Regions from separate parts of the Homo sapiens genome. Here all the other regions are reported to be linked to region 1. Evidence: microRNA targets listed by miRTarBase, many of them from high-throughput screens and not tested one by one. Region 1 holds a microRNA gene; each other region holds the end of a gene's coding sequence. Distances are between the middles of the regions.
The links. Region 1 holds the annotated microRNA hsa-miR-4452 (UUGAAUUCUUGGCCUUAAGUGAU, at 2,045-2,067, opposite strand). A microRNA usually pairs through its seed, bases 2 to 8, with sites in the 3' UTR of a target mRNA and lowers its output. Matches are read on the target gene's strand: a 7mer-m8 pairs with bases 2 to 8, a 7mer-A1 pairs with bases 2 to 7 and ends in A, and an 8mer does both.

Region 2: miRTarBase lists GABRB1 as a target of hsa-miR-4452. The part of its 3' UTR that is shown has no 7-base or 8-base seed match.
Region 3: the mRNA of ZNF394 is a reported target of hsa-miR-4452. The part of its 3' UTR that is shown has no 7-base or 8-base seed match.
Region 4: the mRNA of WNT5A is a reported target of hsa-miR-4452. Seed matches in the 3' UTR shown: 7mer-m8 at 1,535-1,541.

The regions. Positions count from the first base shown.
Region 1 is chr4:86,540,441-86,543,621 of GRCh38, forward strand. It overlaps MIR4452 (microRNA 4452), which reads right to left and starts at 2,112; the gene lies at 2,042-2,112. It also overlaps a transcript of MAPK10 not described here.
Region 2 is chr4:47,425,489-47,428,669 of GRCh38, forward strand. GABRB1 (gamma-aminobutyric acid type A receptor subunit beta1) reads left to right here. Exons shown (of 9, transcript NM_000812.4): 9 at 186-959. The coding sequence ends at 530. Among named protein-coding and RNA genes, the nearest start is that of COMMD8, 37 kb to the right of the region's middle.
Region 3 is chr7:99,490,851-99,494,031 of GRCh38, reverse strand. It overlaps ZNF394 (zinc finger protein 394), which reads left to right. Exons shown (of 3, transcript NM_032164.4): 3 at 1-792. The coding sequence ends at 503. Among named protein-coding and RNA genes, the nearest start is that of ZNF394, 7.8 kb to the left of the region's middle.
Region 4 is chr3:55,467,204-55,470,384 of GRCh38, reverse strand. WNT5A (Wnt family member 5A) reads left to right here. Exons shown (of 5, transcript NM_003392.7): 5 at 1-3,181. The coding sequence ends at 293. Among named protein-coding and RNA genes, the nearest start is that of WNT5A, 19 kb to the left of the region's middle.

The DNA.
Region 1 (3,181 bases):
AGTGAGCCGGGATCACATCACTTCACTCCAGCCTAGGCAACAGAGTGAGACCCTGTCTCAAACAAACAAAAAAACTGGGCAATTGAAAGAGAAGGATTTTCTTTTGAATTAATAAAAACGAACATGATTGGAAAACTGATGCAGAATCTAGAAGACGAGAGCACAGAGATTACAAAAGTTAATCACAGAATAAAAATAATGCAGTACTTAATATATTCTTGCCTGATAGCAAGGAAGAAGAATAATTCCCTTCCTGGGCTGCAGGGAAGAGCATGGAGAAAGAGGGAAAAAAGAGAAGAAAGTCAGATGTAGGAAAAGTCCCTGAGGGGACTGGCCTCTTTCCAAATAGGTTTCTTGACATGAGAAAAGAAGGTACTTTGGGGTAGGCGTGGTGGCTCATTCCTGAAATCCCAGCACTTTGCGAGGCTGAGGTGGGAGGATCACTTGAGCCCAGAAGTTTGAGACCAGCCTGGGCAACATGGCAAGACCCTATCTTGAACAACAAAAGCAGAGGTACTTTTGTTAGATTTCCTACATGAAATCAGGGAGGAGCCACTTTCAGAATGCCCACTGATAACGCAGGGTGGCTGCAAAGAGTATGAATGGCACCAAGTCAGGATTGGGGTGGGGTGGGGGCTGAGAGAGGCTCCTACCCTACCAGCCCCTACAATCCCCATGGGGCATTCTTGAAATCTTGAAAGGGGCATGGGAGAGATCTGGGAACAATGCGACAGCTGGCTTATGGGGAAAGTGGGGAGTGGGGGCAGGGGAGACATAGCAGAGAATTGGGAGGTCCCACACTAAAGCCAGGGGTAGTTGGTTCTCAGCAGCAGCAGGAGAAGATAACCAAACTCCTGGGAGTAATTGCTCTGCACTGCACTGCCCAGTGTCCAGAACAAACCCATAGGCAAAATCCATGTAAACAAGACTTCACAGCCAGGAAGGAATGGAGGGTCACACAAAGACCAGATATGCCTTCCTTGCAGCAGGGTGGTAGCGTGAGCTTTTTCTATTCCCAAAGACCGCCACCAGGAAGGGGAGAAGAAGTGGTAGAAAGGAAAAATCTTGAGAGGGAAAAATAGCCCTGAGAGGGAGGCTGAACTTCAAATGTGATAATAACCTCGAAGAGACAGACAGAGTTGCACTGAACTAGTGACAAAATAAATTCAGTTACAGAGAAATTTAAAGAAACTCTGTACTCATCCAAGATATGATTGTGAATTTCAAAGCTGGGACATCTATCTACAGTGCTATTTTGGTCTACCCAGTAATTATTCTCTATTCTGAGAAAAAAGCAGCTCTGAGTTTCTGCTGCAGAGCTCCCTGAACCTTCCTGGGTCCTAATCTTCCAAAGCCTGGGTGTTTTTTATTCTGTGGACTGCCAAGAAATTCCTTTCCTTCCTTAAGTTTGTAACTGGGTCAGTTTCTGTTATTTGCACTAAAGAAAGAAGCCCAGCTGATACAAAATATATAATCCCAATTTTGTAAATGCACATGAATACACCGGCACACACACACACACACACACACACACACACACACACACACACAGGTGGGGAAAAAGAAAGAAATAAAATATTAATAGTGATCCTATCTGGATAATCAAGTTATAAAATATTATTTTCTTCTATGTTTCCAAGTTTCCTATTCTCCATAATGAGTATGCATTATATTTTTATTCAGAATATTGAGAGATAGAAGTATTATCCATAATGTCCAGAAAAATAACATTAAGAAGCCCAATTACATTAAAAAGGTATGTCACGTCATTGGCCTTTGTCTCTTGGCACCCTGGGCCAGCCAGCAGATGCAAGCACAAGCACTGTTGGGCAGTGTGTTATAATGCAAAGAATACTAGGCCAGGAGTTCAGAGACCAGAGTTTTAGCTCTGGCTCTGCCACTGACAAGTTGTGTGATGTTTAATAAGTCTTTCAACCTCCTTTAGCCCCAAATTTCTTTATCTGTAACATGAAGGCTTCAACTCCCTAGCTGGACACAGTGGTGTGTACCTGTAGTCCCAGCTATTCAGGAGGCTGGGACAGGGATCACTTAAGGCCAAGAATTCAAGGCTGTGCACACTACAGCCTTGCACTCTTGGCCTCAAGTGATCCATGATCGCACCTGTGAATAGCCACTGCACTCTAGCCTGGGCAACGTGAGACTCTCTCTAAAAAAAAGAAACTCCCTATGATAATACAGAGTTCACTGACCTGTCAACCGTACCCTAGCTCAGGTTCCAACTGTCAACATTTCTCAGATATATGTATGAGAAGACAAAATTTCCCAGTATGCTAGCCAAAGTCTTAGAGAAAACTTTCAAGGGAACACTACAGACACTGCTTGCTTTGCTTTTGAGACTGAAACATAGCAATAGCACTGATGTTTTCCATCTTGTTTTCATGCAATCTCTGTCTGAAGGGACACTTCACAACCTAGCATTGCCTGTCACCAGCATGAAAGTGCAGCTAGTGCTTGTCGCTGGCATCAGCCCCAGATCCAGCATAAGAACCCAAATACCATCATGCTGGGGGGCACCTTGAGCACACTGCCTCACCATGCAGCTGGTCATCAGAGCCTCAGAGGGCAAGGAAGGTTCACGTATAGAGGGAACCAGTGAAAGGCAAATTTACTACTGCTGCTTCAATCTGTGAAATCGCAAAGCCAAGGAAGTTAAAGGGATGTGGTGCAATATTTCACACTAGATACCTGATCCGTCCAGGTGGGGGGACTTAGATGGATTCCCAAAGAAGTAGGTGCATTGAGAAGAGTACACCAGGAATTGAGCTATAGGAATAACAGAGACCAAACTAGCAATTTTACATCTGTTCAAAACTATGACCTCATCAAACTAATTTCTCAGCTAGCTTTTTTCTTCTTCCATTCTTGTATCCATGTCTTGCAGCTTCCTCTGGGAATCTTCTTCCTCTCCCTGTAGTATATGATGTCTAAAAATCCTCCCTGGCTTGTTGGGAACAAACTTCCCATACACCAGAGTGACATATGCCCTGAGACTCTACACGATGGCTGAAGAGACACCTAACTCACAGGACTAAGGAAAATGTAAGCCCTAAACCACTTAGCTCTGTGTCATAAAAATCTACTGTCCTTTATTCTGTTTATCTTTATTTCTAACCTAAGAGAAAAAGTAGAATGGAACAGACTGGGTAATCTATTCTAAGAA
Region 2 (3,181 bases), 39 Mb from region 1:
GATAGATAGATAGATAGATAGATAGATAGATCGATCGATCTATCTCCACATCAGGGAGGCACATCAAGCCAGATGTTTAGGAACACAGTGTTTAATGAGCCTTATGGGGTATCATTAGTAACAGGTTAATGAAAACAGGCAAAGGTCCTGCAACTTGTGTCCGAGCCTGTTCTTTTTGCCATCAGGTCGACGCCCACGGTAACATTCTCCTCAGCACCCTGGAAATCCGGAATGAGACGAGTGGCTCGGAAGTGCTCACGAGCGTGAGCGACCCCAAGGCCACCATGTACTCCTATGACAGCGCCAGCATCCAGTACCGCAAGCCCCTGAGCAGCCGCGAGGCCTACGGGCGCGCCCTGGACCGGCACGGGGTACCCAGCAAGGGGCGCATCCGCAGGCGTGCCTCCCAGCTCAAAGTCAAGATCCCCGACTTGACTGATGTGAATTCCATAGACAAGTGGTCCCGAATGTTTTTCCCCATCACCTTTTCTCTTTTTAATGTCGTCTATTGGCTTTACTATGTACACTGAGGTCTGTTCTAATGGTTCCATTTAGACTACTTTCCTCTTCTATTGTTTTTTAACCTTACAGGTCCCCAACAGCGATACTGCTGTTTCTCGAGGTAAGAGATTCAGCCATCCAATTGGTTTTAGGTCTTGCATATCAGTTTTATTACTGCACCATGTTTACTTCAAAAAGACAAAACAAAAAAAAAATTATTTTTCCAGTCTACCGTGGTCCAGGTTATCAGCTCTTTAAGAGCTCTATTAATTGCCATGTTTACAAACAAACACAAAGAGAGAAGTTAGACAGGTAGATCTTTAGCAGTCTTTTCTAGTTTCCCTGGATTTCACTGATTTATTTTTTAGGGAAAATGAAAAGAGGACCTTGCTGTCCGCCTGCACTGCTTCCTGGTAAACTATAACAAACTTATGCTGCCAAAAAAAAAAAAAAAAAAACATAAAAAAAAACACACAATTTCCAGGATCTCAGAAGAAAAAAACAAAGCCATTGACAAGTTACAGATTTCCAGGAAGAAGGCAAAAGAAAAAGGAGCTTAGACAGGGAAGGAAGAGTCCCCTCTATCCTTAAGTTCTCCCATGTCCGTTGTAAAAGGGCTCCACAGCTCCACAGAAGAAGAGGGAAGGAAGGACAAGCGCTGGTCAAGGTTATGCAATCCCAACCTGCCATCTTCACTGCACCATTAAGCTGGATATTCTGAAATATGCTTCTTTCTCGACTTTCCGGCAAATTTTAAATTAACATTAGAATCCAACCTGGTCGACCTGGTAGCCATTGAGAACATTTTTCTTTTTTTCTTGAGAATAAGGAGCTTGGAAGGCAATGACCATTTTTCTAACTGGCCATTTCAAACATGCAGCCCTGAATTCATCTCATCAGCCTGGAACCCCCTGATGCTGTGCCAGGAAGCCATGCCACCCCAGTTCCATAGTTCCTGCTCCAGAGAGTGTGGGAGGAAGGGGATGGTGAGCAATTTTTGCTTGAGAAAAATATTGCCCTTGCCATTAGGAAGGCAAGATTTATGTGCTGTGAAAAGGGTGCCTGGGCAGTTATCTGAACTGCCAAATCTTAAATCAAATAGTATATATTTCTTTGCCTTCTAGAGAGCAGTATCTAATGGTGACAGGCTAGTCACACAGGCCTCAACTGGCACTTCATGGCTCTGCTCTCTGAGCTCTGCATTCCAGACTGGAATGAATGCTTTGGAAAATGCACAAATACCCATGTTGATGTCATTCCCCTTCAGGACCAGAATTCCATTTTAAAGAAAATCTTGAAAATTGCAGAACTACAGATAAAAACAAGAGCGATGAGAAAAGCAGTGGAGCTTCCAACACATGCACCAGTCCCTAAAGAATAGACCCTGTCTACACTCATTAATCACTGTCATTGCTCCTCTGCTTTATCTCCGCTTGTGGATTACTCTTGGTCATGGTTCTCATAGAAGGGGCATCCTTCAGTAGCCCAACACAATTCTAAACATGTCCAACCAGCTACAGTTGAGATTCTTCCCATGTTATATCACTGAAACCTTGTCATTTTATTTTTCAACCTCAGTATCTAAGAATTCTGTATGTTCATTTGCAAGACTGAATGAAACTGTAAGCTAACCAAACACTGATGCAGGAGGTTTGGGACCTGACCCATGAATGTGAAATAAGGGTTGAGGTAATAATAGGGACGATTGCCTGGCTTAATGATCTAGCTTTTTCCCTAAGACTGTGATGGGGTCCATGTTTACAATAGCATCAGCTTCTGGAAATTACAGTCTTCACCGGACAGATGATGCTGAATTTTTACTGATGAGCTGAAGGGGAGAAAGGTACAAGATATTCTTTTAGAAAGCAAGAGGAAAAGGGAACCTTAAAATAAATGAATAGTTAAGGCTGAAGATAATATATATACAAAAACTCTGCTTTAACTGGAAAAAATGATCTCAGTGGTTTCATGATAGGGACCACATTTTTATTTAGATTTTTAGTTGTATTATCACACTTTCCTGGTCAAGGAAATCTCCAGCCTTAGGGTATGAAGTCATCCATTTTGAAACTCTTCAGTCCCTTGGCAGGGTGAGATGCTTTGCCATCATAAAATGGCCATATAGAGTGGCATGTGGCCATGTCAGTGATTGTAAGGTTAATATTCCGTAATGACCGCAAAGGAACCACTGTGCAGCCATTTATCTTAAACACAGGAAGGAAAATTGTTGGCTGATGCCTAATAAAAATGAATCATTCTGGGTGTCAAAGCTCTTTTAAAAGCTTTTAAGAATGAAATGCTAAATCAGAAAGGAAGTATCTGTAATCTATGTTCCTTAACAAACAATTTATTTTTATTTATCTATTTAGATTATTATTCTTGGGAAAGATTGAGAATATTTGTATTTTTATTATTATATTTTTATCTTGTCTTTAAAAAATCTAACGATTTTGATGCTGTAGTTTTAGATGTAAAGCATCTTCTGAGAAAAAAAGAGAACATTTTGAATTCATATCTTAACCTTTGTAAAATGTAAACTTATTAAGCCTGAATCTACCCATCAGGCACAAAATGGTGTCACCATATGCCCTCCTGGGCAGTAGAGGGGCCACAGCCAGCATTATAAAAATCCTGGTAAATAGCTGATTTTAGAGGCAGTGGCAGCCAGAAGAATGGAGAA
Region 3 (3,181 bases), not on the chromosome of region 1:
TCAGCCAGAGTGCTGCCCTGACCAAGCACCAGAGGACACACACAGGCGAGAAGCCGTACACCTGTCTGAAATGTGGGGAGCGCTTCAGGCAGAATTCACACCTAAATCGTCATCAAAGTACCCACAGTAGAGACAAACATTTTAAATGTGAGGAATGCGGGGAAACCTGTCATATTTCCAACCTTTTTAGACATCAGAGACTACATAAAGGGGAAAGACCCTATAAGTGTGAAGAATGCGAGAAGAGCTTCAAACAGCGCTCTGACCTCTTTAAACACCACAGAATCCACACTGGGGAGAAGCCCTATGGATGTTCCGTCTGTGGGAAACGCTTCAATCAGAGTGCAACCCTCATTAAACACCAGAGAATTCACACTGGGGAAAAGCCTTACAAATGTCTTGAATGTGGGGAAAGATTTAGACAAAGTACACACCTTATCCGACACCAAAGAATTCATCAAAATAAAGTGCTGTCGGCTGGGCGTGGTGGCTCACGCCTATAATCCCAGCACTTTGGGAGGCCAAGGCAGGCAGATCATTTGAGATCAGGAGTTTGAAACCAGCCTGGCCAACATGGTAAAATCCTGTCTCTACTAAAAATACAAAAATGAGCCGGGCATGGTGGTGCATGCCTGTAAGCCCAGCTATTCGGGAGGCTGAGGTAGGAGAATCACTTGAACCCAGGAGGCGGAAGTTGCAGTGAGCTGAGATCATGCCACTGCACTCCAGCCTGGGCAACAGAGCGAGACTCCATCTCAAAAAAGAAATAAAGTGCTGTCATTTTGATATGTTTCTATGTGACTTGGCCTGTTTCTTTTCTTGTCCAGAACCACATTCCTTGCCATTTGGAGTATATCAGTCAATTATGGATCTTCCTTGAGTATCTCCTACAAGATAGGTTCAATCTGTCCTGAGCCTCATTACAGACTGATAGTTTCAGTGAGTGAGGAATGAGGAAGTAGGGGGCCTTCTGAAATGTGAGCTGATGCCAGGTAAGAGACTTCTGATGATAAGAGCCAGGCTGACATGTAACGGGGTTCTGTCCTTGTTATCTGCGCTCTACCTTTATGTATTATTTTTGAGACTGGGTCTCGTCGTAGCCCTCCAGCGGGAGCCCAGTGGTGTGATCGTGGTTCACTGTGGCCTCAACCTCCTGGGCTCAAGTGATCCTCTTGCCTTAACCTCCTGAGTAGCTGGGACCACAGGCACACACCACCACACCCAGCTTTTTTTTTTTTTTAAGAGATAGGGTCTTGCTATGTTGCCCAGGCTGGTCTCAACCTCCTGGGCTCAAGGAATCCTCCTGCCTCAGCTTCCCAAAGTGCTGGAATTACAGACACAAGCCACCACACCCAGCCTACCTTTATTTACTTTTTTTTTTTTTTTTTTTTTGAGATGGAGTCTCGCTCTGTCACCCAGGCTGGAGTGTAGTGGCATGATCTTGGCTCACTGCAACCTCCACCTCCTGGATTCAAGCAATTCTCCTGCCTCAGCCTTCCAAGTACTTGGGACTACAGGTGCACCATGCCATGCCCAGCTAATTTTTTGTATTTTAGTAGAGATGGGGTTTCACTGTGTTGCCTAGGCTGGTGGTGAACTCCTAAGCTCAGGCAGTCCGCCCACCTCAGCCTCCCAAAGTGCTGGGATTACACACGAGCCACCATGCCCGGCCTTTTTATTCACTTTTGAACCAAATCTTGCTCACTACAATTATTAATACTTGCCTAAGAATGTATTTTAGTCATTTAAAATTTGCCTTTGGCCTTAGATTGTAGAGAGGGTTTCAACTACTTCATAATCCCCAAAAGATCTGGTAAAGCTCAGTACTCAAAAGAAGCACTCTATTTTTCACTTTCCAGAAAACCTAATTTTGCATAGTCCCTCTTTCTTTCCCATTCTAGGAGCCTAGGAGTTCAGTTTTATGACTTGCTGATTTCTTTTTTTTTTTTTTTTTTTCTTGAGACGGAGTCTCGCTCTGTCGCCCAGGCTGGAGTGCAGTGGCGCAATCTCGGCTCACTACAAACTCCACCTCCCGGGTTCATGCCATTCTTCTGCCTCAGCCTCCTGAGTAGCTGGGACTACATGCACCCCCACCATGCCTTGCTAATTTTTTGTATTTTTAGTAGAGATGGGGTTTCACTGTGTTAGCCAGGATGGTCTGGATCTCCTGACCTCATGATCCGCCCGCCTTGGCCTCCCAAAGTGCTGGGATTACAGGCTGGAGCCACTGTGCCTGGCTTTTTTTTTTTTTTTTTTTTTTGAGACAGATTCTCTGTCGCCCAGGCTGGAGTGCAGTGGCATGATATCGGCTCACTGCAACCTCCGCCTCCCAGGTTCAAGCAATTCCCCTGCTTCAGCCTCCCGAGTAGCTGAGACCACAGGCACTCGCCACCACACCCGGCTGATTTTTTGTAGTGTAGTAGAGACAGGGTTTCACCATGTTGGCCAAGATGGTGTCTATCTCCTGACCTCGTGGTCCGCCCGCCTCAGCTTCCAAGTTTCTAATCATGCCTTGGTCTTTCCAGTTAGCCCCCAAGCTGAACCCATCGGAAATCCAAGAGTTGCCTTATTAGAACAAAGACATGCATCACTAAGGAAATTCCAATGGGTTTAACAGCTCTGTGTCAGGAACAAGTGTCAAAGACCAAATATGATAAGAAAAGATGCTCTTAGCACCCTTATCCCTCAGGAATTCTCCAAGGTTTGGGGAGCTCTCTGCTAGTCATTGAGGATGAAGACCAGATACATATTTATCATGATATCACAAGGCTTATTATACAAAATTTGAGTATTTCTTGCAGAAGTGAATAAAATAGAACATAAGAATCATCTCCAGTAAAGCAAGTGTGGTTGTCCTTTCCAGGTCCTGTGAAAATGAAGGGAAGAGAGTGTCTGCTCAGCTCCACTAGGGGCTCCCACCATCACGGTCAGGAGACCACTCTCTCCCTGATGTAGGTGAGCTGGGGCACGTGTAATAGAGGCCTCTGCTTGAAGGAATATCATCAGGAAACAGCAGTCAGGGCACTAGTGGCCCCTGACAAACACAGGGCAGAGCCCCGGGTCTAGTCTGGGTGTAGGTGGCTTCTGGGTGATAGTGGCTTCTCTTCCTCTAGGAACTGTTTGGAAACTGAAGAGTGTCTGGCCTGGACAGCACCTACACCTCCCTCTAAGTTTGAAGCCA
Region 4 (3,181 bases), not on the chromosome of region 1:
TGGTACAGGTCAACAGCCGCTTCAACTCGCCCACCACACAAGACCTGGTCTACATCGACCCCAGCCCTGACTACTGCGTGCGCAATGAGAGCACCGGCTCGCTGGGCACGCAGGGCCGCCTGTGCAACAAGACGTCGGAGGGCATGGATGGCTGCGAGCTCATGTGCTGCGGCCGTGGCTACGACCAGTTCAAGACCGTGCAGACGGAGCGCTGCCACTGCAAGTTCCACTGGTGCTGCTACGTCAAGTGCAAGAAGTGCACGGAGATCGTGGACCAGTTTGTGTGCAAGTAGTGGGTGCCACCCAGCACTCAGCCCCGCTCCCAGGACCCGCTTATTTATAGAAAGTACAGTGATTCTGGTTTTTGGTTTTTAGAAATATTTTTTATTTTTCCCCAAGAATTGCAACCGGAACCATTTTTTTTCCTGTTACCATCTAAGAACTCTGTGGTTTATTATTAATATTATAATTATTATTTGGCAATAATGGGGGTGGGAACCAAGAAAAATATTTATTTTGTGGATCTTTGAAAAGGTAATACAAGACTTCTTTTGATAGTATAGAATGAAGGGGAAATAACACATACCCTAACTTAGCTGTGTGGACATGGTACACATCCAGAAGGTAAAGAAATACATTTTCTTTTTCTCAAATATGCCATCATATGGGATGGGTAGGTTCCAGTTGAAAGAGGGTGGTAGAAATCTATTCACAATTCAGCTTCTATGACCAAAATGAGTTGTAAATTCTCTGGTGCAAGATAAAAGGTCTTGGGAAAACAAAACAAAACAAAACAAACCTCCCTTCCCCAGCAGGGCTGCTAGCTTGCTTTCTGCATTTTCAAAATGATAATTTACAATGGAAGGACAAGAATGTCATATTCTCAAGGAAAAAAGGTATATCACATGTCTCATTCTCCTCAAATATTCCATTTGCAGACAGACCGTCATATTCTAATAGCTCATGAAATTTGGGCAGCAGGGAGGAAAGTCCCCAGAAATTAAAAAATTTAAAACTCTTATGTCAAGATGTTGATTTGAAGCTGTTATAAGAATTAGGATTCCAGATTGTAAAAAGATCCCCAAATGATTCTGGACACTAGATTTTTTTGTTTGGGGAGGTTGGCTTGAACATAAATGAAAATATCCTGTTATTTTCTTAGGGATACTTGGTTAGTAAATTATAATAGTAAAAATAATACATGAATCCCATTCACAGGTTCTCAGCCCAAGCAACAAGGTAATTGCGTGCCATTCAGCACTGCACCAGAGCAGACAACCTATTTGAGGAAAAACAGTGAAATCCACCTTCCTCTTCACACTGAGCCCTCTCTGATTCCTCCGTGTTGTGATGTGATGCTGGCCACGTTTCCAAACGGCAGCTCCACTGGGTCCCCTTTGGTTGTAGGACAGGAAATGAAACATTAGGAGCTCTGCTTGGAAAACAGTTCACTACTTAGGGATTTTTGTTTCCTAAAACTTTTATTTTGAGGAGCAGTAGTTTTCTATGTTTTAATGACAGAACTTGGCTAATGGAATTCACAGAGGTGTTGCAGCGTATCACTGTTATGATCCTGTGTTTAGATTATCCACTCATGCTTCTCCTATTGTACTGCAGGTGTACCTTAAAACTGTTCCCAGTGTACTTGAACAGTTGCATTTATAAGGGGGGAAATGTGGTTTAATGGTGCCTGATATCTCAAAGTCTTTTGTACATAACATATATATATATATACATATATATAAATATAAATATAAATATATCTCATTGCAGCCAGTGATTTAGATTTACAGTTTACTCTGGGGTTATTTCTCTGTCTAGAGCATTGTTGTCCTTCACTGCAGTCCAGTTGGGATTATTCCAAAAGTTTTTTGAGTCTTGAGCTTGGGCTGTGGCCCTGCTGTGATCATACCTTGAGCACGACGAAGCAACCTTGTTTCTGAGGAAGCTTGAGTTCTGACTCACTGAAATGCGTGTTGGGTTGAAGATATCTTTTTTCTTTTCTGCCTCACCCCTTTGTCTCCAACCTCCATTTCTGTTCACTTTGTGGAGAGGGCATTACTTGTTCGTTATAGACATGGACGTTAAGAGATATTCAAAACTCAGAAGCATCAGCAATGTTTCTCTTTTCTTAGTTCATTCTGCAGAATGGAAACCCATGCCTATTAGAAATGACAGTACTTATTAATTGAGTCCCTAAGGAATATTCAGCCCACTACATAGATAGCTTTTTTTTTTTTTTTTTTAATAAGGACACCTCTTTCCAAACAGTGCCATCAAATATGTTCTTATCTCAGACTTACGTTGTTTTAAAAGTTTGGAAAGATACACATCTTTCATACCCCCCTTAGGCAGGTTGGCTTTCATATCACCTCAGCCAACTGTGGCTCTTAATTTATTGCATAATGATATTCACATCCCCTCAGTTGCAGTGAATTGTGAGCAAAAGATCTTGAAAGCAAAAAGCACTAATTAGTTTAAAATGTCACTTTTTTGGTTTTTATTATACAAAAACCATGAAGTACTTTTTTTATTTGCTAAATCAGATTGTTCCTTTTTAGTGACTCATGTTTATGAAGAGAGTTGAGTTTAACAATCCTAGCTTTTAAAAGAAACTATTTAATGTAAAATATTCTACATGTCATTCAGATATTATGTATATCTTCTAGCCTTTATTCTGTACTTTTAATGTACATATTTCTGTCTTGCGTGATTTGTATATTTCACTGGTTTAAAAAACAAACATCGAAAGGCTTATGCCAAATGGAAGATAGAATATAAAATAAAACGTTACTTGTATATTGGTAAGTGGTTTCAATTGTCCTTCAGATAATTCATGTGGAGATTTTTGGAGAAACCATGACGGATAGTTTAGGATGACTACATGTCAAAGTAATAAAAGAGTGGTGAATTTTACCAAAACCAAGCTATTTGGAAGCTTCAAAAGGTTTCTATATGTAATGGAACAAAAGGGGAATTCTCTTTTCCTATATATGTTCCTTACAAAAAAAAAAAAAAAAGAAATCAAGCAGATGGCTTAAAGCTGGTTATAGGATTGCTCACATTCTTTTAGCATTATGCATGTAACTTAATTGTTTTAGAGCGTGTTGCTGTTGTAACATCCCAGAGAAGAATGAAAAGGCACATGCTTTTATCCGTGACCAGATTTTTAGTCCAAAAA